2 separate regions of the Homo sapiens genome follow, and region 2 is linked to region 1. The links come from fine-mapping of genetic effects on plasma protein levels. Region 1 holds a variant in brackets. A gene starts in the other region. All regions are shown on their reverse strands. Region 1 holds the start of CBFA2T3 (CBFA2/RUNX1 partner transcriptional co-repressor 3). Region 2 holds the start of CLEC4C (C-type lectin domain family 4 member C).

Evidence for each region. PIP is the posterior inclusion probability: the model's chance that the variant is causal. Protein levels are from antibody-based Olink assays in UK Biobank. Linkage for the fine-mapping came from a reference panel and not from the study's own genotypes, which makes the PIPs less certain.
Region 2: it holds the start of CLEC4C, and the variant in region 1 is fine-mapped to the plasma level of the CLEC4C protein (UK Biobank, PIP above 0.99).

The regions. Positions count from the first base shown.
Region 1 is chr16:88,975,735-88,986,200 of GRCh38, reverse strand. It overlaps CBFA2T3 (CBFA2/RUNX1 partner transcriptional co-repressor 3), which reads left to right and starts at 8,994. Exons shown (of 12, transcript NM_005187.6): 1 at 8,994-9,544. The coding sequence starts at 9,394. LOC124903756 (a long non-coding RNA gene) reads right to left here and starts at 5,138. Exons shown (of 2, transcript XR_007065183.1): 1 at 4,972-5,138; 2 at 3,915-4,245. RefSeq lists enhancers at 2,477-2,536, 2,242-2,742, 8,573-8,622, 10,463-10,466, 10,325-10,466 and a silencer at 3,827-4,029. The variant G/A (reference allele first, on the strand shown) is at 7,376.
Region 2 is chr12:7,742,115-7,753,121 of GRCh38, reverse strand. It overlaps CLEC4C (C-type lectin domain family 4 member C), which reads left to right and starts at 5,747. Exons shown (of 6, transcript NM_001371390.1): 1 at 5,747-5,804; 2 at 6,699-6,791. The coding sequence starts at 5,774. RefSeq lists enhancers at 3,432-3,511, 3,692-3,871, 3,892-3,971.

The DNA of each region.
Region 1 (10,466 bases):
AAGCACGACTGGAGGGCTGAAGCAGGTCCCTGGACATGGTGGGGCAGCCGGAAGGCGGTTGGAGGCCGGACCCCTGCCTGCAGGGCCAGCTTGCCTGGGTGCTGAATGATAAACCTCATGCTGTGACAGCAGGAGGCGGCTCAGGGGCCCAGCATGGAGCCCCCTCCCCTGAGCTGCCTGATGGGGGGACTCAGCTTGGTGGTCTTCCCTGCCCCCACCTCTGAGCTGCCCGATGTGGGGTTTCAGCCTGACGGTCTTCCCTGCCCCCATTTCTCCTCCATGACCTTCAGCTTTCTCCCAAGAAGCCCTACCCTCTCGGGCCGGCCAGGTTGGACCCCCTTAGACGGATAAGGCCAGGTTGGACCCCCTTAGCCGGGTCAGGCCTGCAGGCGACAGCCAGGAAGGGGCTGGACCCTGGACCCACCCCCACGCCAAGCACCACAGACATGTGCTCCGAGCTCAGGTGGCTGGAACTGCCAGGGAGGTCCCAGAGCCTCAGGGAAGTCCCTCCACCCACCCATGGGGAGAGACAACCGTTGCAATGACAGAGTCACAGTGCTGGCTCACCCTGTCCCCAAGCAGACCCCGGGGCAACCTCGTCCCTCCAGATCCCCTCGGGGACAATCGGAGCAGACCCAGGACAGCCCCAGGTGCCCCACGCACAGATCCTGGGTGGGTGAGGATTTCTGACAAGCTCCCAGGGTCAGGGACTGCGCTCTGAGAACCCTCGGACTCCCCTCCCAGACCCCTCTCACTTTCCTCGGTGTCTGGAGTCGGGACTGAACATGGGCGCAGGGTCAGGGACTGCGCTCTGAGAACCCCTGGACTCCCCTGCCCGACCCCTCTCACTTTCCGCGGTGTCTGGAGTCAGGACTGAACACGGGCAGAGTGGGAAGGGTGTTTTAGGCCAGGGCACCCAAAGGCGCCTTAAAAGAATCTGATGTTTAAAATGTTTCAAGTTCAGTGAAGCAGAGTGCTTGATCCACAAGCCTGTGTTATATCCTCTAAGCTTGTGTGTGTCTGAAAACAAGGTCAATAGAAACCTAACTATTAAAAAGCCATGAGGCCGGGTGCAGTGGCTCATGCCTGTCATCCCAGCACTTTGGGAGGCTGAGACAGGAGAATCGCTTCAGCCACGAGTTTGAGACCAGCCTGGGCAACATAGTGAGGCCCCATCTCTACAAAACATAAAAAATTAACCAGGCATGGTGGCGGGCGCCTCTGGTCCCAGCTATTCAAGAGGCTGATGCAGGAGATTCGCTTGAGCCCAGGGGGTGGAGGCTGCGGTGAGCCAAGATCGCACTGCTGCACTCCAGCCTGGGTGACAGAGCAAGACCCTGCCTCAGAAAAAATAAATAATGGAAGCAAAACACAAAGTTTTTTTCTTATTGGATACAGGCCAGTTTGTCTTCCAGTTCAGCTCTAAGATACAATAACAGTGCTGTGATCGTCCATCACACTCACAATCGCCCAGGACGCGAATGGTTAGGGTCCTGCAGCCTCTTCAGGGACGAAGTCCACGTTTGGAGCAGGTCAGGCTGCATGGTTCTTAACCCAAGACTCCCAGATCCTTCCGGATCCTTCCGGGTGCCTGGAATATCCTTGGGCCTCTTGGCCAGACCTAGCTGGGTCTTCCGTGGCCCCAGGCCCCACTGCAGCCCGAAGTAGCCACTGGTGGGAGGCAGGAGCTTGGCACTGCTTGGGGGAGGTGTCTATGACGCAGGAGGTGGCACCCTGGCTCTGGAGGGCGGGCGGCTGCCTCTCCCCACGCACCACGCGCCACGCGCCACACACACAGAACCACACACCAGCCTCTTGGTATTTTCCTCATGTTGGATGCCGCTCGATGGCCCAGGTTTACCCAGTTCCCAGGCTCCGGGCTGAGAACAGAATGTTCCAGAATGTTCTAGAACATTGGTGGGTAGGCCAGGGCCACGTTCTTCCCTCTTAAGCTGCTGTGAACACCCAGGCAGGACGGAGGGGAGGAGAGGAAGAGCACAGGGCAGGGGTTCCCTCGTTCATTCCTTCTGCTGCACACACACCACCCCCCGTCGGCAGAGCCGTGGACTCGCGGACTCACAGGAGATGAGATGAGGGCAGGTCACCGGTGTGGGGCCTGCGGACTAGACATGGCACCAGCACAGGGGCAGCCGCCTCAGCCTGAGTCAGAGGGAAACCGGGGCGGCACCGGCACGTCGCAGCCCTCACCCCGCCTGGGCTCCTTACAGGGAAAGTGGCCTCCGGACGGGGCTTCCCCCTTTGCAGCTGGGGTGCAGCAGCCCAGGACCCTGGGACCCCCAGGGAGGCTGGGACTTTCCCCTCTGGGAGCCTCGGTTTCCTGTTCTGCAGAACGGGCAGCCTTGCCGGGTCTTGATGCCTCCTGGGCGCTGGGGAGGAGCAGAGACCACGGTGGGCAGAGGGCTCCGTGTCCTGGAAGCTGGGTGGGTGTAGCCACAGCAGGCTCTCTGCCTCAGGGAGAGGACTGGCTTAGACCCAGCCTGAGTCCCAAATCCCACCGCTGGTGACCTGGGAAATTGCTTAACCTCTCCAGTCCTGTCAGACACCGAATATATGCCACCAGGTCACCAGCGTCCCCCGCAAGTCCAGGGTGCTCAGGAAGCGGGGGCGACGCTGTTGCTGCCCTGATGCTCAAATTCCTGTCTCTGTTCAGACTCCACCCTGCTGGGCTCAGCCCCATGCGCTTCAGGAGGGGAGGAGGATGCCAGCCAAGGGAACAGCGGGTCCTGTGGGGCTGTGGCCTCTGACTGCCGTCAGCTCTCTGTCCCACACCCACTACCCGCCTGGGGTGGCTGATGAGCTGGGGAAGGCCCTCCTGTCCGGGCAAAGGCCACTGAGCCCCCTAGGCCTTGGGGGCTGCCCCAGGGTCCCAAGGCTGCGCTGGGCGGCCGGGCCTGGAGTCTCAGCCCATCCTGCTCTTCGGAAGCAGCTGGGGAGACCGGCCATTTCCTCTGTGTTCCCTGGGATGTGTGTGGGGCAGAGCCCCAGGGGAGTCCTGAGGGCGAGAGAGGTGGAATTCAGCCTAGAGAAGTTCCAGGTGTCGTGTGGGGGACCCAGAGGTGGGTGTGCCAAACTCCGCCAGCCAGTCATCACCCATGGAGCCCTGCGCCTTGTGCCGGGAACACAGCCCTTGGAGACAGGCAAGGTTCCCGCCCAGGGCTGCTTTCCTGTGGGTCCAAGGAAACCAGCCCACAGCAACTGCAACCCAAGGTGCTAATGCTGTGATGGAGGCGTGCAGGGGGCATGGAGCCCAGGAAGGTGTGAAGGGGGTGTGGAACCCAGGAAGGTGTGCAGGGGGTGTGGAGCCCAGGACAGGACAGGGCACTTCCTATGGGCTCTGAGGGCTGGGTAGGAGCCCGCCACGTGAGGCAAGTTTCGATGGGAGGGCTGGGGAAGGCCCAGAGATGAGGAAACACCCTCAGGAGAAGCGGCTCTGATGTAGGGTTGGGGCAGAGTGTGGAGGGGCCCCCAGCCACCTTCAGGGTCTGGCCTTGATCTTGAGGGAGGTGGGCAGCCACTGAAGGTTTAAGAGGAGGGGCGGGGCAGCCACATCACAATTGAAGCAGGTCTCTTGCCATGGGGGCGGGAGGGCTGTGGGGGAGGAGGCTGTGGGGGAGGAGGCTGTGGCTGACTCCAGGGGGCGGCGGTGGGGCTGGGAGAGCCCTTTCTCCCTTCCAAAGCACTCTTCCGGAGAGGGGCCGCATCTGCAGGGATGCCGACCTGAGCTCAATTTAGGAAGAGCTTTCTAGCAGCAACGCGCCTGCCCCGGAGGCGGCCATGGCCAGAAGGCGGTGTGGGGATTCCACTGTCCCCCTGGGCTGGCCCCTTCACGGCTCAGGGATCTCGCAGGGGTCACAGCTGCCCGTCCGTGCTTGCCCACCTTCACGGGCACCATAGGAGAGTCCAAACGTGGACGGTTTTATTAAATCCTCACCACACCCCCATTCAGCTGACTCTGTTACCTTCTTACTTTACAGTTGGGGAAACGGGTCAAGACATTTGCCCAAGCGTACCCAGCACAGACAGGAAATGCTGAGTGTGAACCAGGGGCCTGTGACTTCGAGACCCTCAGTGGGGTTCCGGCTGTCCCACCGGAGACTCCTGGAAGCTGAGGTGGTGAGCGGGACCGGGGGACACCTTCGAGGGAAGCTGGAACCGCGGTTCTTTCCTTGGAATTCAGGGGATCCGTGGACTTGGATGAGTTTCATCTGGCATTGTGTCGTGTCTCTAACCAAAATTTAGCCTTTCCTGTAACCAAGAACGTGGGCACCTCCCCAGGGTGTCAGCCGCGCCTGTGCCGTTGACACCGATAGAGCTGCCCCAGGGCCACTTTGGTGGGCCCCAAGCAGCCACGCCTTGGGAGGGTCCAGGGCTCCACAAAAGACCCCCCTCGCCTTCCACTCACCACCACGTCTCCTAATGCGGTTCCCACGCCTCACCACTTTAAATCATGGCTTAATGAAAAGCACAGTGCTCACTACACCAGAATGTTCTAACGGGGTGGTAGCTGTATTTTGGTAAAATGGGTTTCCTTCATAATTCTGTGAACTTATTTGCTTACTAGATGCCCAAGGAGTCCACACACCGGGAAGGTGAAGACCCCGATTCCAGTTCCGTGCTCTCATTGGGGTGTCTCCGGCCTGCGCCTCGGCTCGGACTCCCCAGGTAGACCTGCTCTTTCTGGGGGTGGCAGGAGCGCCCAGTAACTGCAGTCTCAGAGCCCTGGAATCCTGCACCACTTTGTACCAGGTTTCCCCAAATCACCCCAGCCCTCCGGCCATGGCACCTTCTCCGTGGTTCTGGGTTTGCTCAGCCGTGCCCTGAGCTGGGGAGTGGCTGAGCATCCAGCTATGAGCCGCTTCACCTGCACTGCCTTGAACACCCGGGGCAGGTTTTTTCCTGCCTCCACCCCCGGCCCCCACTCCCTCTGTGGCTCACCCCAACTGTCCACACCTTATTCAGGACCAGAAAGCCGGGGCAAGGCTCCTCCGTACATGACACTGTTCAGCATCCTCTGGAGCGGCTTCGCGACTTACATTCCTCTCTCCAGGCTTTGTGACTGGGGATGGCACCCTTGTGGGCCTCCTCCCTCCTCTGTAAAGTGGGCTGGCATGAGACTTACATAAAACCATATTACCACTTATTCATTGATCCACCTATCCACCCACCCACCCATCCACCCATCCACCCACCCACCCACCCATCCACCCATCCACCCACCCCTCTACCCATCCATCCACACATTGACCCACCCACCCATCTATCCACCTACCCACCCATTCACCCATGCACCCATCTATTCACCCATCCATCCATCCATCCATTCACCCATCCACCCATCTATCCACCCATCCATCCACCCATCCATCCACCCATCCACCCATTCACCCATCCACCCACCCATCCACCCATCCATCCACCTATCCACCCATCCACCCATGTATCCATCCATCCACTCATTCACCTGTCTATCCACCCATCCATCCCTACCCACCCATTCACTGATCCACTCATCCATCCACCCATCCACGCACCCATTCATCCACCCATCCATCCACACATTCACCCACCCACCGATCCATTCACCTACTCACCCATTCACCCATCTCTCCATCCACCACCCATTCACCCATTTATCCATCCATCCATCCATCCATCCATCCACCCATTCACTCATCTATCCACTCATCCACCCATTCACCCGTCTATCCACCCATCCACACATTCACCCATCTATCCACCCACCCACCCACACACCCATCCACCATTCATTCACCCACACACCCATCCATCCACCTACCCACCCATTCACCCATCTCTCCATCCACCCATCCATCCACACATTCACCCACCCACCTATCCATTCGCCTACTCACCCATTCACCCATCTCTCCATCCATCCACCCATCCACCCATCTATCCATCCACCTACCCATTCACCCATTTATCCATCCATCCTTCCACCTATTCACCCATCTATCCACCCATCCACCCATTCACCCATCTACCCACCCATCCACCCATCTATCCATCCACCACCCATTCACCCATTTATCCATCCATCCATCCATCCACCCATTCACTCATCTATCCACTCATCCACCCATTCACCCGTCTATCCACCCATCCACACATTCACCCATCTATCCACCCACCCACCCACACACCCATCCACCATTCATTCACCCACACACCCATCCATCTACCTACCCACCCATTCACCCATCTCTCCATCCACCCACCCATTTACCCATTTATCCATTCATCCATCCACCCATTCACCCATCTTTCCGCCCATTCACCCATCTATCCATCCACCCACCCATCCACACATCTATCCATCCACCCACCCATCCACCCACTCACTCACTCACCCATCTATCCACCCACTCACCCATCTATCCACCCATCCATCCACCCATTCACTCATCCACCCACCCACCCATCCACCCATCATCTACCCACCCATCCACTCACCCACCCACCCATTCATTCATCAATCTATTCATTCATCTATTCATCCAGCAGTGAAGGGTGTGTGTGTTGGGGGTGGGGGGGTTCCTACATGCTAGAAGAGAAGGCAAACATAAGACACCCTGCCTGAAGGAAGGCCTCCTCACCCACCCCCACATGGCGTCATCTCCCCCACTGCCCCCTCACCCTCCTCCAGTTCTCTGGCCATCCTACAGATTCACCAAAGCCTGCCTTAGGGCCCCTCTGCCCACCCAGGGACAGTTTCCCCAACTGCCCTATGGGCCCCACATGCTGGGCCATGTTGATGGAACGTGTCTCCTATAGTTCCCAGAGAGCAGGACCAGGGGCTGTCTTGGACACCGAAAGAACCCCAGTAGGCCCTAATAGGTCTTTTAGGAAGGAAGGAAAGGCCCCTCCTGCCCCGAGAGGCTGGGTGCTGGCTGCAGACAGCAGAGGTCCCTGGGAGAAGCCGAGGCCCCTCCTGCTGCCCCCACCTCTGCAGCCACTTCCTCCCCAGCCCCTTATCTCCTGGCCGCCCAGCTCTGAAAGCCACAGCCAACGTCTGCTTCCCCACAAGCACCAACTGCCCGGCCTGGGGGAGAGGAGGCCGGTAGTGGGGAGGTGGGGAGTGGTGCCCACACCCCCAGGTGGCCGCCAAAGTTGGGGGGCAGCTCCTGCCCCCAACTTGTGGGCAACTTTCTTCTCTTCTCTTTCCAACCCCACCTCCGTCAGACCCCCTGATTAGACACCAGGCAAGACGGGGCCAGGCGGGGAGCTCAGGGCCTCATTGCGAAAGTGGAAGTGTCCCATCTGTGGGGGGCGCAGGTGCAGGCCTCGAACATCTGCCTCAGGGCTGGGGGCAGGGCTGCCTGTCTCCTACCCC[G/A]GGTGGGGGGAGCCACCACCCTCACCCAGGGTGCTGTCCTGCTGCCTCACGGAGTGGGGGCTGTGCCCCCTGAGACCCTCAGTTCCCCGACTCTGAGACTCTCACTGCACACAGCTGGGGAATAGGCACTGACACAGACCAACCCCAGCCACATGCTCACGGTGGCCCCGGCCCATGTGGCGGCTCAGAGCCTCTGCTGTCTCCACTCCCGGAAACGCTGTAGGAGCTGACGCCGTTAGGATCGTGCACCCTGCACAAATGAGGAAACCAGGAGGGTCAGGGCCCCCAGGACCCTCACTGTGAATCCCACCCTGAGCCAGAGCACAGGGAACAGCAGGGGACGTGGGGACCGAATGATGGCACCAGGGGATGGGCCCCGGGCTGGCAGGAATGTCCCCTCCAGCCTCAGTCCTGGGGGCAGAACGGCCGACCACCCAGGGCAGGGGAGGCCCCGGGTGGGCCTGGCGTCTGGGAAGTTCCCCAGCAGGAACAAACACATCCCCACTGTAAGCTGGACACACACGCTGGCATGCAGCTTGTTGTCACCAACTCGAGAAAGACACTCGACTATTGGGACAGGGAGACCCGGGACACCTGGAGACCCTGCGGGGAAGGAGTCGGCTTTTACTCCTGCACGGCTTGAATTATTAACTGCGTGCAAACGTGACCTAAAACTCAAATCAAATCAAATCAAAATAGCACAGATGCCCGTGAGCCGGCCCTGGGTCTGCGGGCTCCACACCTCTGGCCTGTCTGAGGCCGGGAAACCTCCAGCCATGGCATCAGAAAAGCCACCGAACCAGGGCTGCAGGGCCGAAGGGTCACTGTCCCCTCCCAGGAAGCTCCTGCCCTCTGACAGTTGTCAGGGAGCTTTAGAAAGTGGCTTTTTTTCCCAGCATCTGGGATGTGCCTCACTCTCTCAGCCCAACGGCCGCTAGAAAGGGGTCCTAGGACTCTCCCTAGGGTCTAAGTAGTCCCAAGAGTGCTCTGAGGTGGCTTCTGGAATTTCCCAGACTGGAGAAGCCACCTACCCCCGACCCCCGCAAACTCCAGGCTGCTCACCGGAGGCGGCCGCTGGGGCGTGGGGTGAGGGTCTTTCTGAGGCACCCCCGGAGAGTGGGGGAGCCCTGCTGTCTCCACAGAGGGCCAGGAGCCCTGTGCACGAGGCCAAGCAGAGAGAGAGGGTTTCCTTCCCAGCAGGCGGGAGGTACTTTGAGGACAGGTCAGGTGCCCAAGAACCCCGGAGCAGGGGCTGAGGAGAGGCTGGTCAGAGGCCCCGCCTTGCTCAAGGGCACAGTCAGCAGACACAGGAACACGGGCAGGGTGGCCCCTGGAGCGGGGGCAAACTAAAAGGGGTGCTGGGGAAAGCTCGGCTGACTGAGGGCTAGCGGAGAGGGAGGACACCCCCAGATACCCCAGGCTGAAGGAAGGGCCAAGCCCTGGGGGGAAGATGGGTGGGCGGGACAGGCCAAGGGCTCTGGGCCAGGATGGAGCTGCCCTCAGGCCTGCACACCTGCCCTGGGGCCGAGGAAACACATGCCCAGTGGCCACGCTGTAGGGCTCAGGGTGGGTGGGACGTCACCAGAGCTGCCTGGGAGGAGGAAGTTGTTGGAAGGTCAAACCGGAATGGCCCGAGGGAAGGCCGCGCAGGGCAGGGCCCCAGATGGTTCCTGTCAGGGAAGTGGCGGGCGCAGCTGCAGGCCTCCGGCCCCGGCATTATCACGGGGACACAGCTGGCTGCCTCACCCGCAGGCTGCAGGGAGACCTTCCCCAGCCTGCAGCCCCAGGCCCGCCCCGCGTCACATGAGCCCCAGGGCTCCCACCCCCTCCCCAGGGCAGAGGACACCCAGTTGGTGGCCGGGAGGGCCTCGGCTTTCCAGGGACAGAGGCCCAACTCCAGGACGCCCCAGCTGGCCCAGCCCCTCCTCTTTCCCTCAAGGCTGCAGGAGGTCGGGAAAGGCAGTCCTGGTAGAGGCCTGTCCTGGGCTCCAGGTTGGCCCCTGAGGGTGGCCCTCCTCATGCCGGCTTCAAGACTGAGGGACAGGGCAGCCAGTTCAGCCTCGGGATCCACCTGTGGCTCCATGTCCCAGACGCACCCTGTGCTGGAGAGCGGCCTCCTGGCATCTGCCGGCTGCTCCGCACCCCGGGGTCCCAGGAAGGGCGGCCCAGGTAAGAGGCTCGAGGGGAAGGTGGTGGGGTGGGGGCAGAGAGCGGCAGCCGGTGCCGGGGCTGTGACTCCTTAGAGCTTCGCGGGGCCTGCCCAGCTTAGTTGACAGTGCCGGCACGGATGGCCGTGTTGACTCACCTCAGATATCAACAGGGCCACCCCACAGGCAGGTCCTGCACAGCTGGGGCAGGTGGGCTGGTGAGGGTTTGGCAGGTGCCAGCCAGGTGCCCCAGCCCCACCCAGAGGCAGATGCTGGAGGCCGGGCTGCTCAGCCCCGTCTAGGAGGGTGGGCTGTGTTCTCCTGGGGGTGGGAGGGCCGCAGCCGGGAAGTGATGGGGGGGTCCTAGAAAGAGAGCCCTCCTCCTCCTGGGATGCCCTCCGGGTGTGACACCTCACAGCAGGTTGGATGAGGAAACTGAGGCCAGAGGGGAGGGCACTGGCCCAAGACCCCGGTGAGGAGGAAATGGACCCAACCCTGGGCCCCTGTCCGAGGAACGATTCCAGCCAGGGCAGTGGGGGTTTACGGGGAACCTGGGCCTGCCCTTCTGGGGGCTTCGGGCTCTGGGGAGGGGTCCAGTCCAGCAGGACGCCAGCTATTGCTGATACCCCCCACCCGAGCCTGCGAAGTCCCAGGACAAGGATCCCCGGACGCTGGGGGCTGCAGCTGCAGGCTGGTGGCCCCGATTCCCAGTGGCCCTCGTGGCCACACTCCCAGCAGCCGTCGGAACCTTCAGGAGCTCACAGTCTCCCGTCTCGCGGGGCTCTCACTGAGGCCGTCAGGTCCAAGGTCTGACTGCACCCCTGACACTCACACACAGAACCCGGGACCGAGGGGTGTCCCCATCTCTGGAGACCACATTCCCTGAGCAGGTCCTGGCGGCGGCTGCCTGAGGCTGTTCCCACCTGCAGCTGCCCGTGGGGCCC
Region 2 (11,007 bases), not on the chromosome of region 1:
CCAAGATCGTGCCACTGCACTGCAGCCTGGGTGACAGAACGAGACTCCATCTCAGAAAAAAAATAATAATAGCCTGAATGGACTAAGACACTCACTTTTCCTATTTCTCTGGATATTCTTCTTTGTCTCTTTTGCCACTTCATCCTCTGCAAACAATACATTCAAAGTTGGACTTTTTTTTTATTATTATTTTTTTGAGACGGAGTCTTCCTCTGTCGACTCTGTCTCAAAAAATAAATAAATAAAAAAATATAATCTGATCCTTTCACCACATTGCTTTAGTGCCTTTAATGGCTCTTTCTGCTATTGGATAAGTTAAACTCTCACTTCACCCTGCGTGGTCTGACCACTAACTTCCTCTTACACAAGCCCAATATCTCCACCTGGCTAGCTATAAAATAGAATCTTAAACCCTAAGGACTGCTTTTCTCATTGGTTTCTTTCTTTCTTTTGAGACAGAGTCTCCCTCTGTCACCCAGGAGTGCAGTGGCGCAATTGAGAGGTGACAGCGTGCTGGCAGTCCTCACAGCCCTCGCTCGCTCTCAGCGCCTCCTCTGCCTAGGCTCCCACTTTGGCGGCACTTCAGGAGCCCTTCAGCCCACCGCTGCACTGTGGGAGCCCCTTTCTGGGTTGGCCAAGGCCGGAGCCGGCTCCCTCAGCTTGCAGGGAGGTGTGGAGGGAGAGGCGGGGCTGCGCGCGGCGCTTGCGGGCCAGCTGGAGTTCCGGGTGGGCGTGGGCTTGGCGGGCCCCGCACTCGGAGCAGCCGGCCGGCCCTGCCGGCCCCGGGCAATGAGGGGCTTAGCACCCGGGCCAGCGGCTGCAGAGGGTGTACTGGGTCCCCCAGCAGTGCCAGCCCACCGGCGCTGCACTTGATTTCTCACCGGGCCTTAGCTGCCTTCTCGCGGGGCAGGGCTCGGGACCTGCAGCCCGCCAAGCCTGAGCCTCCCACCTCTCCCCCGCCATGGGCTCCTGTGCGGCCGAGCCTCCCCGATGAGCGCCACCCCCTGCTCCAAGGCGCCCAGTCCCATCGACCACCCAAGGGCTGAGGAGTGCGGGCGCAAGGGCGCGGACTGGCAGGCAGCTCCACCTGCAGCCCCAGTGCAGTGATCCACTGGGTGAAGCCAGCTGGGCTCCTGAGTCTGGTGGGGCCGTGGAGAACCTTTATGTCTAGCTCAGGGATTGTAAATACACCAATAGGCACTCTGTATCTAGCTCAAGGTTTGTAAACACACCAATCAACACCCTGTGTCTAGCTCAGTTTGTGAATGCACCAATCGACACTCTGTATCTAGCTGCTCTGGTGGGGCCTTGGAGAACCTTTATGTGGATACTCTGTATCTAACTGATCTGACGGGGACGTGGAGAACCTTTATGTCTAGCTCAAGGTTTGTAAACGCACCAATCAGCGCACTGTCAAAACAGACCACTCGGCTCTACCAATCAGCAGGACGTGGGTGGGGCCAGATAAGAGAATAAAAGCAGGCTGCCCGAGCTAGCAGTTGCAACCGGTTGCGAGTTGCTTTCTGTGCTGTGCAAGCTTTGTTCTTTCGCTGTTTGGGTCCACGGTTCTTTTATGAGCTGTGATACCGCGGAAGTCTGTAGCTTCACTCCTGAAGCTAGCAAGACCACAAGCTCGCCGAGAGAAACGAGTAACTCTAGACGTGCCATCTTAAAAGCTGTAACACCGCGAGGGTACGTGGTTTCATTCTTGAAGTCAGTGAGACCAAGAACCTATCAATTCTGGACACACGATCTCGGCTCATTGCAATCTCTGCCTTTGGGTTCAAGTGATTCTCCTGCTTCAGCCTCCTGAGTAGCTAGGATTACAGGCTAGTGCCACCACACTAAGCTAATTTTTGTATTTTTAGCAGAGATGGGGTTTCATCATGTTGGGCAGCCTGGTCTTAAGCTCCTGACTTCAGGTGATCCACCTGCCACACACTTCCAAAGTGCTGGGATTACAGGTGTGAGCCACTGTGCCTGGCCTCTTACTGGTTTCTTTGCTTGATAATATGTTGCAAATATATAACATTATTCACATAGAAATCTTTTTCTGAAGGCGTAAATACTGACATATTGGGGAGGTTTCTTTTTCTTCTTGGTTTTTATTTTATCTTAGAGGTAGGGTCTTTGTCACTCAGGCTGGAGCACCGTGGCTTGATTATAGCTCACTGCAGCCCTGATCTCTAAGGCTCAGGTGATTCTCCCACCTCAGCCCCTCAAGTAGTTGGGACTACAGGTACATGCTACCATACCTGGCTAATTTTTGTTTGTTTGTTTGTTTGTTTTTTTTTTTTTGGTAGAGAGAAGGTCTCACTATGTTGCCCAGGCCTCAAGTAATCCTCCTGCCTTTGCCCCACAAAGTGCTGGGATTACAGGTGTGAGGCATTGTGGCCAGCCAATAAGTTTTAAGTGGAAGAGAGTGGTTGTCTTTTAATGTTATAGCTGGAGTGATTTGGTGATTTCCTGGCACACAGGTTTTTAAAAGCATGTACACAATAGGGTTTGTTTTCTTGCTACTACTGGAATCCTCCTGCCACAATGTACGTAAATCCAGGCTAATCCGCTAGAGGATGACCAAAGAGAGACGTGAATCAGCCAGCCCCACCCAGCCCACCAGCTTATTGCAGAGTGAGCTCAGCTGAGATGGAACCGATCCGATCCAATCCAAACCAGAATCACCCAGTGGTGTTCAGCCCAAATTGCTGACTCTCGGGAACTATGAACTAATTGAATAGCTGTGTATTTTAAGTTTTAAGTTAATTGATTATACAGCAAAACCTAACTGATGCCCTGTCCTGATTCCAAACACTGGGTACTCATGTTAAAAGAGCATCACCGGCCAGGCATGCTGGTTTACATCTGTAATCCTAGCACTTTGGGAGACCAAGGCAAGAGGATCACCTGAGCCCAGGTGTTCGAGATCAGCCTGGGAAATAACATAGCGAGACCCTGTCTCTACAAAAAAAATTTAAAAGATCCCCAGGTGTAATGACGTGTATCTATAGTCCCAGTTACTCGGGAGGCTGAGGTGGGAGGATCACTTGATCCCAGGAGGTCAAGGCTACAGTGAGTGAAGGTCGAGACACTGCACTTCAGTCTGGGCAACAGACTGATATCCTGTCTCAAAAACAAAAAATGGCCAGGCATTGTGGCTCACACCTGTAATCCCAGCACTTTGGGTGGCTGAGGTGGGCGGATCACCTGAGGTTGGGAGTTCAAGACCAGTCTGACCAACATGGAGAAACCCTGTCTCTACTAAAAATACAAAATTAGACAGTCGTGGTGGCGCATGCCTGTAGTCCCAGCTACTCGGGATGCTGAGGCAGGAGAATTGCTTAAACCCGGGAGGTGGAGGTTGCAGTGAGCCAAGATTTAGCCACTGCACTCACTCCAGCCTAGGTGACCAGAGAAAGACTCCATCTCAAAAAAAAAAAATATTTCTGTTTCTCACTCAGCCAGTTTCCATCTCAGCTGGGCCAGCTGCACTCCACCTGGTCCTCAAGCTAATAGATTTCACTTCCCTGAAGGCCCACAAAATCTTTTTTTTCTCTTTTTTTTTTCGTTGACACAGAATCTCACTCTGTCACCCAGGCTGGAGTGAAGTGGTACGATTACGGCTCACTGCAATCCCTGCCTCCCAAATTCCAGTGATTCTCGTGCCTCAGCCTCCTGAGTAGCCGAAATTACAGACGTGTGCCACCATGCTTGGCTAATTTTTTGGATTTTTAGTAGAGATGGGGTTTCACTATGTTGGCCAGGCTAGTCTTGAACTCCTGGCCTGAAGCAATCCGCCCACCTCAGCCTCCCAAAGTGCTGAGATTATAGGCACGAGCCACTACACCTGGCCACAAAATTCTTTAAAGAAGCCAATCCCATCCTCCCTCAAGAGCCAAGGGGCCACCTCACCCTCTTGTTACAGCAGATCCTGCCTCCCACAGTCACCCTGCTCCCAAGTGCAACCTCTGTCTGACCCTGCATGGTGTGCGGTGCCCTCCTGCCTCAGGCCGTGAGTACATGCAGCTGAACTGCTGTCAGTCTTATCTGTCCAGTGTCGGGTGTTGTGTGTCCAGCCACCCATAACCCTGGGTTGGGACTCCCTCCCTCACCAACCGGGGGAAGAAGTAGTGAGCAAACCATCTACCAATTCTTATCTAGATTTATCCTCTTCAGCTGTAGCTTTTGCAATACTCTGGTCATACTCAAAGCATTCTGCTGGGATGTCACCTGAGCTGGGCCTACATGCAATTCTGCTTTTCTTCTGAGAAAATAATTTGTCATTCTTTCTGCTTTTATAATTTGTTCTATTTTAAATTATTTTTCTCATTTTTGCCTTTGCTCCTTTCTTCTCAGCATTGTATACTCAAAGGAATACCCTCATACTCTACATTTTAATCCAAGACAGAGGAAAGCAACAGGGAGAACCCCTGAGGCAGGGGCAGAGGGAGGTTCAGGGAACTGTAAATGGGAGGTAGACAAGAGACCAAACAGGACTTTAAGTTGTTTCAGCAAGTATACAGCTTAGAAAGGATCTCATTGGTCTGGGTCCTAAAATATCTCAAAGGATGGCTGCTAACTCAAAACTTTTTTTTTTTTGAGACTGAGTCTTGCTCTGTCACCCAGGGTGGAGTGCAGTGGCACGATCTCGGCTCACTGTAAGCTCCGCCTCCCGGGTTCAAGCAATTTTCCTGCCTCAGCCTCCTGAGTAGCTGGGACTACAGGCATGCACCACCACACCTGGCTAATTTTTGTATTTTTAGTAGAAACGGGGTTTCACCATGTTGGCCAGGATGGTCTCGATCTCTTGACCTCGTGATCCGCCCACCTCAGCTTCCCAAAGTGCTGGGATTATAGGCATGAGCCACCGTGCCCAGCTCAAAACTTTTTTCTCACTACTCTACAATTAAATCTCAGTTGAACTCTGGGAAGATTCTGGAATACCTAGGTTCTTTCTTTCTCAGTGTCTATTTCACCAGTAGTTGTAACCATCCTTCAACCAAACATCTCCATTTGAGTAGCATAGGCTATAATGGATTTTCTCTATTTAAGATTACTCAGCAGTGGCCGGGCACGTGGTGGCTCACAACGGTAACCCCAGGACTTTGGGAGGCTGTATTAGTCCGTTTTCATACTGCTGATAAAGACATACCTGAGACTGGGCAATTTACAAATGAAAGAGGCTTTTTTTTTTTTTTTTTTGGAGATGGAGTTTTGCTCTTGTTGCCCAGGCTGGAGTGCAACGGCAGGAGGTCAGGAGTTCGAGACAAGCCTGGCCAGTATGATGAAACCCTGTCACTACTAAAAATACAAAAATTAGCTGGGCATGGTGGCACATGCCTGTAGTCCCAGCTGCTCGGGAGGCTGAGGCAGGAGAATCGCTTGAACCCGCGAGGCAGAGGTAGTAGTGAGCTGAGATTGCACCACTATACTCCAGCCTGGGTGGCAGAGTGAGACCCTGTCTAGAAAAAAAAAAAAAAAAAAAAAAAAAAGACAATCAGACCTGCAACCATGAACTGTTTTTCATGTATTTCTCGATTTCCTTGTTTGTGTTTCCTTATTTCTGAACATGATGTATGTTTTAAATTGAAAGCTTTAGCTCACTGCAGAGTCTCCTAAGTCACATCTCTTCCTTTGCAAGAGTAGGCGAAGAAGGATCTAAGGGCTTGGCTTGTTTGAAAGAACCACACCCCGAAAGTAACATCTTTGGAGAAAGTGATACAAGAGCTTCTGCACCCACCTGATAGAGGAAGTCCAAAGGGTGTGCGCACACACAATGGTGCCTGAAGAAGAGCCTCAAGACCGAGGTAAGCACTCATCTTCTCAGTTCTAGGGAAGGTAGTAGGAGCAGGATGGAGTGGGAAACAGGCATTGAGGTGATAGGGATGACTTTGGAAGAAGAAGTAGACAGCTTTTCATAAATAATAGTAATTTCAGTATGGAAACAGGTATGGACCCAAGATACTTGGATCAGGGAAAGATGAAAGAAAAAAAGAAAGGCCGGGCGGGCGCGGTGGCTCACGCCTGTAATCCAGCACTTTGGGAGGCCGAGGTGGGCAGAGCACCTGAGGTCAGGAGTTCGAGACCAGCCTGACCAACATGGAGAAACCCTGTCTCTACTAAAAATAGAAAATTAGCCAGGCGTGGTGGCACATGCCTGTAATCCCAGCTACTTGGGAGGCTGAGGCAGGAGAATCACTTGAACCTGGGAGGCGGAGGTTGCAGTGAGCCGAGATCGTGCCATTGCACTCCAGCCTGGGCAACAGGAGTGAAACTCCATCTCAAAAAAAAGAAAAAAAGAAAAACAACTCGGGCCTAGAAGGCCTTAAAGGAATATGAATTTGGCCAGGCATGCAGGCAAATGCCTAAAGTCCCAGCTACTCAGAGGTTGAGGCAGGAGGACCACTTAAGCCTGGAAGTTTGAGGCCAAGGCTGTGCAATTCAAGGGAAAAGAGAGTAAGGAATTGGAAAGTACAGTTTACTCTGAGAGTTTTGCCTGGATTTGTCTTGGGTTCCAGGGTACTATCTGGTCATTTGTTCTGAGATAATTTCTATAATCTCTTTTTGCTTTCACATTTTTTCTGTTTTAATTAGTTTTGATCATAGCCTGACTTTATTATTCTAAGATTTTTGGGACTCTGGTTTCCTGGCTCTTTGGCAGTGGGGATTATGACTGTGCATTTGTCATGCTGATCTGACAGAGAAAGGACTCTGGTGGTTCCAGTTGAAGGTCTGGTCCATGGCAGTCGTATCCATCTTGCTCCTCAGTGTCTGTTTCACTGTGAGTTCTGTGGGTAAGTTCTTGGCTGGAGTGCAGTCATCTCTTGGTCCTTTTCCCAATCACATTTTATCAATTTCCTGAAGAAACACGTTCCTCTTTCTTTTTTTTTCTTTTTTTTTTTTTTTTTTTTGAGACGGAATCTCGCTCTGTCGCCCAGGATGGAGTGCAGTGGCGTGATCTCGGCTCACTGCAAGCTCACCTCCCGGGTTCATGCCATTCGCCTGCCTCAGCCTCCCGAGTAGCTGGGACTACAGGTGCCCGCCACCATGCCTGGCTAATTTTTTGTATTTTTAGTAGAGACGGGTTTTCACTGTGTTAGCCAGGGTGGTTTCGATCTCCTGACCTCGTGATCCGCCCACCTTGGCCTCCCAAAGTGCTGGGATTACAGGTGTGAGCCACCGCGCCCGGCCACGTTCCCCTTTCTTGACATAAAATGGCAACCCTAACTGAGAAGGCTATGTTTCTAATAAAATGAGTTATTACTATTATTAATTATTCTGGATAATTGTGTGTACTTCCAGGTTTCTTTGCCTGGTTTTAGTTGCATTTTTCAAATGTGATCATAACTGTCTTGGTCAGCTTGGGCTGCCATAACAAAATACCATAGACTGGGCCAGGCGTGGTAGCTCATGCCTGTAATCCCAGCACTTCGGGAGGCCAAGGCAGGCAGATCACCTGAGGTCAGGAGTTCAAGACCAGCTTGGACCATATAGTGAAACCCTGTCTCTACTAAAAATACAAAAATTAGCTGGGTGCAGTGACTCGCGCCTGTAATCCCAGCTACTTGGGAGGCTGAGGCAGGAGACTCAGTTGAACCCAGGAGGCAGAGGTTGCAGTGAGCCGAGATCACGCCACTGCACTCCAGCCTGGGTGACAGAGTGAGACTCTGTCTCAAAAAAAAAAAAAAAAAAAAAAAAAAGCATAGACTGAGTGAGTTAAAAAACAGATATTTATTTTCTGATGGTTCTGGAGGCTGGAAGTCTGACATGAGGATGTCAGGATGGTTGGGTATGGTGAGGTCCCTCTTCCTGGCTTACAGCTGATGCCCTCTTGCTGTGTCCTCACATGATGGAGGGAGTGCTAGCTCGTCACGGTTTCTTCTTATAAGAGCATTCATCTCACCATGAGAGCCCCCCCTCATAACCTCATCTAAACCTGATTTCCTCCCAAAGCCCCTATCTTCAAATACCACAAATTGGAGCTTGGGACTTCCATATATGAACTTGGGGAGGACGCAATTCATTCTATAACAATAACTCCACTTTGATGGGTGTGCTGATGGTGGGTACCATCTAGTTGATCTGCTCCTTTGTTTTAAAAAAGTCTCTATTGGGAACATAACTATTATTCTTTCTATGATGCTATAATTGTATTACTGTGGGGTTTTAATCTTCATGTGAGATTCTTCCCAACATGACAGGAAAAATTGTTCATATGGCCAGGCAGTGGCTCACACCTGTGAGCACTTTGGGAGGCTCAGGTGGGAGGATCGCTTGAGGACAGGAGTTCAAGACCAGCCTGGGCAACAGAATGAGACCCTGTCTCCATAAAAAATAAAAAATATAACTTGGCATGGTGGCATGTGCCTGTGGTCCCAGCTACTCAGGAGGTTGAGGCAGGAGGATCGCTTGAGCCCAGGAAGTTGAGGCTGCAGTGAGCCATAATCGTACCACTGCAATCCAGCCTGGGCGACAGAGAGACCCTGTCTCAAAAAATAAAAATAAAAATAAATGTTTATACAGTGATACAATGGAAAAATAAACAAAGTAAACTATTATTTAATTGCTACTCCCTTTGCCAAGTTTTATATTTTTGTGACACCTGAGAAATTTCCCAACTCTCTTGTTTACTATTTGGGTGTCAAAATGTGCTCTATTATCTAATATTATGATTAGAAACAGAAATGAAACATCTGTGAGGAAGTTACTGAATACGATGACTTCCTATGTCAAGTAAAAATGTGTTGATGATACAGTCTTCAGTTTCTTTCTAGTTGTAAATACATCTCACAGTTTTCAATGTAACCCCAAGAGGCAGAATTATTACTAAAGTTAAACTTTGCTTTGCTTTTTATAACAAAGGGCAAGAGACAAAAGGGCTTAAAGATGTGATATGGTTGGGATAGTTGTCCCTTCCAAGTCTCATGTTGAAAATTTGAAATTTGGAAGGGACAACTATCACTTGAAATTTGAAATCCCCACTGTTGGAGGTGGGGCATGGCAGGAGGTTTTGAGTGATGCAGATGGATCCCTCATGAATGGCTTGGCACCCTCCTCGAAGGAATAAGTGAGTTCTTGCTCTGAGTTGGGGTGAGATCAGCCCCTCCCCCTCACTCTCTCTTGCACCCTCTCTTGCCATGTGATATGCCAGCTCCCGCTTTGCCTTCCACTATGACTGAAAGCTTCCTGAGGCCTCACCAGAAGGTGAGCAGATGCTGGCACCATACTTACTGTACAGTCTGCAGAACTGTGAGCCAGTAAAATGTCTTTTCTTTATAAATACCAAGTCTCAGGTATTCCTTTATAGCAATGCAAAAACGGACTAATACAAGATGGTTATTTAATTATCTGAGAGGAAAGAAGACATGCAAGAACTTAAAGACATAAATTCAGAGAAAATAGAAGAGTTTGACTAGGTTTAGTCTCAAAATCAGAATGATGAAATACATGAATAAAGAATTAAGGCCGGGCGTGGTGGCTCACTTTGGGAGGCCGAGGCGGACGGATCACGAGGTCAGGAGATCGAGACCATGGTGAAACCCTGTCTCTACTAAAAAAAAAATACAAAAAAAATTAGCCGGGCGCGGTGGCGGGCGCCTGTAGTGCCAGCTACTCAGGAGGCTGAGGCAGGAGAATGGCATGAACCCAGGAGGCGGAGCTTGCAGTGAGCCAAGATCGCGCCACTGCACTCCAGCCTGGGCGACAGAGCAAGACTCCATCTCAAAAAAAGAAAAAAAAAAAAAAAGAATTAAGTGAGGATAAGTGAAAAGTCAGATCTTGCTCTATGTGCCTGCCAGTGAACAAAAGAGACCGTTTTTAGCAAAAGATGTCTAAATGTCTCCAAAGGGTTAGGTTTTACCTTATATTTAATTTGACCCAAATGGTTTACTTACAGTTACAGCCATCAGAAAACTATGGAAAAACCAAAAGACCTGTGATATTTCAGGATTAATAGAATTAGATGCTGTTACCTAGTAAGTCAACAAATGCTTACTGAACACCTACTATGAGCAGGCCACTTTTCTAGGTGCTGGGTATATAGCGTGAATACAATGAAATTCCTTCACTAGACTGTATGTTATTGTAGGGGGAAATCAAGATATATACGTATGTAAACTTATAAACAAACAAGATAAATGAATATAAGATAGGGTTAAGAACATATTTTTTACTGGACCTGCACAGAAAGAAGCATGAGAAAAAAACAGTACGGCTTGAAATGGGATGGGCAAGAGAGAGATGTTGCAGACTTTGTAAGAGCATAACGTTTATTTATTTATTTATTTATTTATTTATTTATTTATTTATTTATTTTTGAGATGGAGTCTCGTTCTGTTGCCAGGCTGGAGTGCAGTGGTGCGATCTCGGCTCACTGCAACCTTCGCCTCCCAGGTCGAAGTGATTCTCCTGCCTCAGCCTCCTGAGTAGCTGGGATTAATAGACACGTGTCACCACGCCTGGCTAATTTTTGTATTTTTAGTAGAGATGGGGTTTCACCATGTCGGTCAGGCTGGTCTCAAACTCCTGACCTCATGATCCACCCACCTCGGCCTCCCAAAGTGCTGGGGATTACAAGCATGAGCCACTGTGCCCAGGCTTTTTTTTTTTTTTTTCGAGACAAAGTCTGGCTCTATTGCCCAGGCTAGAGTGCAATGGCACGGTCTCTGCTCACTGCAACCTCCACCTCCCAGGTTCAAGTGATTCTCCTGCCTCAGCCTCCTGTAGCTGGGATTACAGGCATGTGCCACCATGCCCACCTAATTTTTGTATTTTTAGTAGAAACAGGGTTTCACCATGTTGGCTGGGCTGGGCTTGAACTCCTGACCTCAGGTGATCCACCCGCCTTGGCCTCCCAAAGTACTGGGATTACAGGTGTGAGCCACCATGCCCAGCCGTAAAGTCATAAGATTCTTTATTTTTATTTATTTATTTATTTATTTTTTTGAGATGGAGTTGCACTCTTGTCACCCAGGCTGGAGTGCAATGGCACGATCTCGGCTCACTGCAACC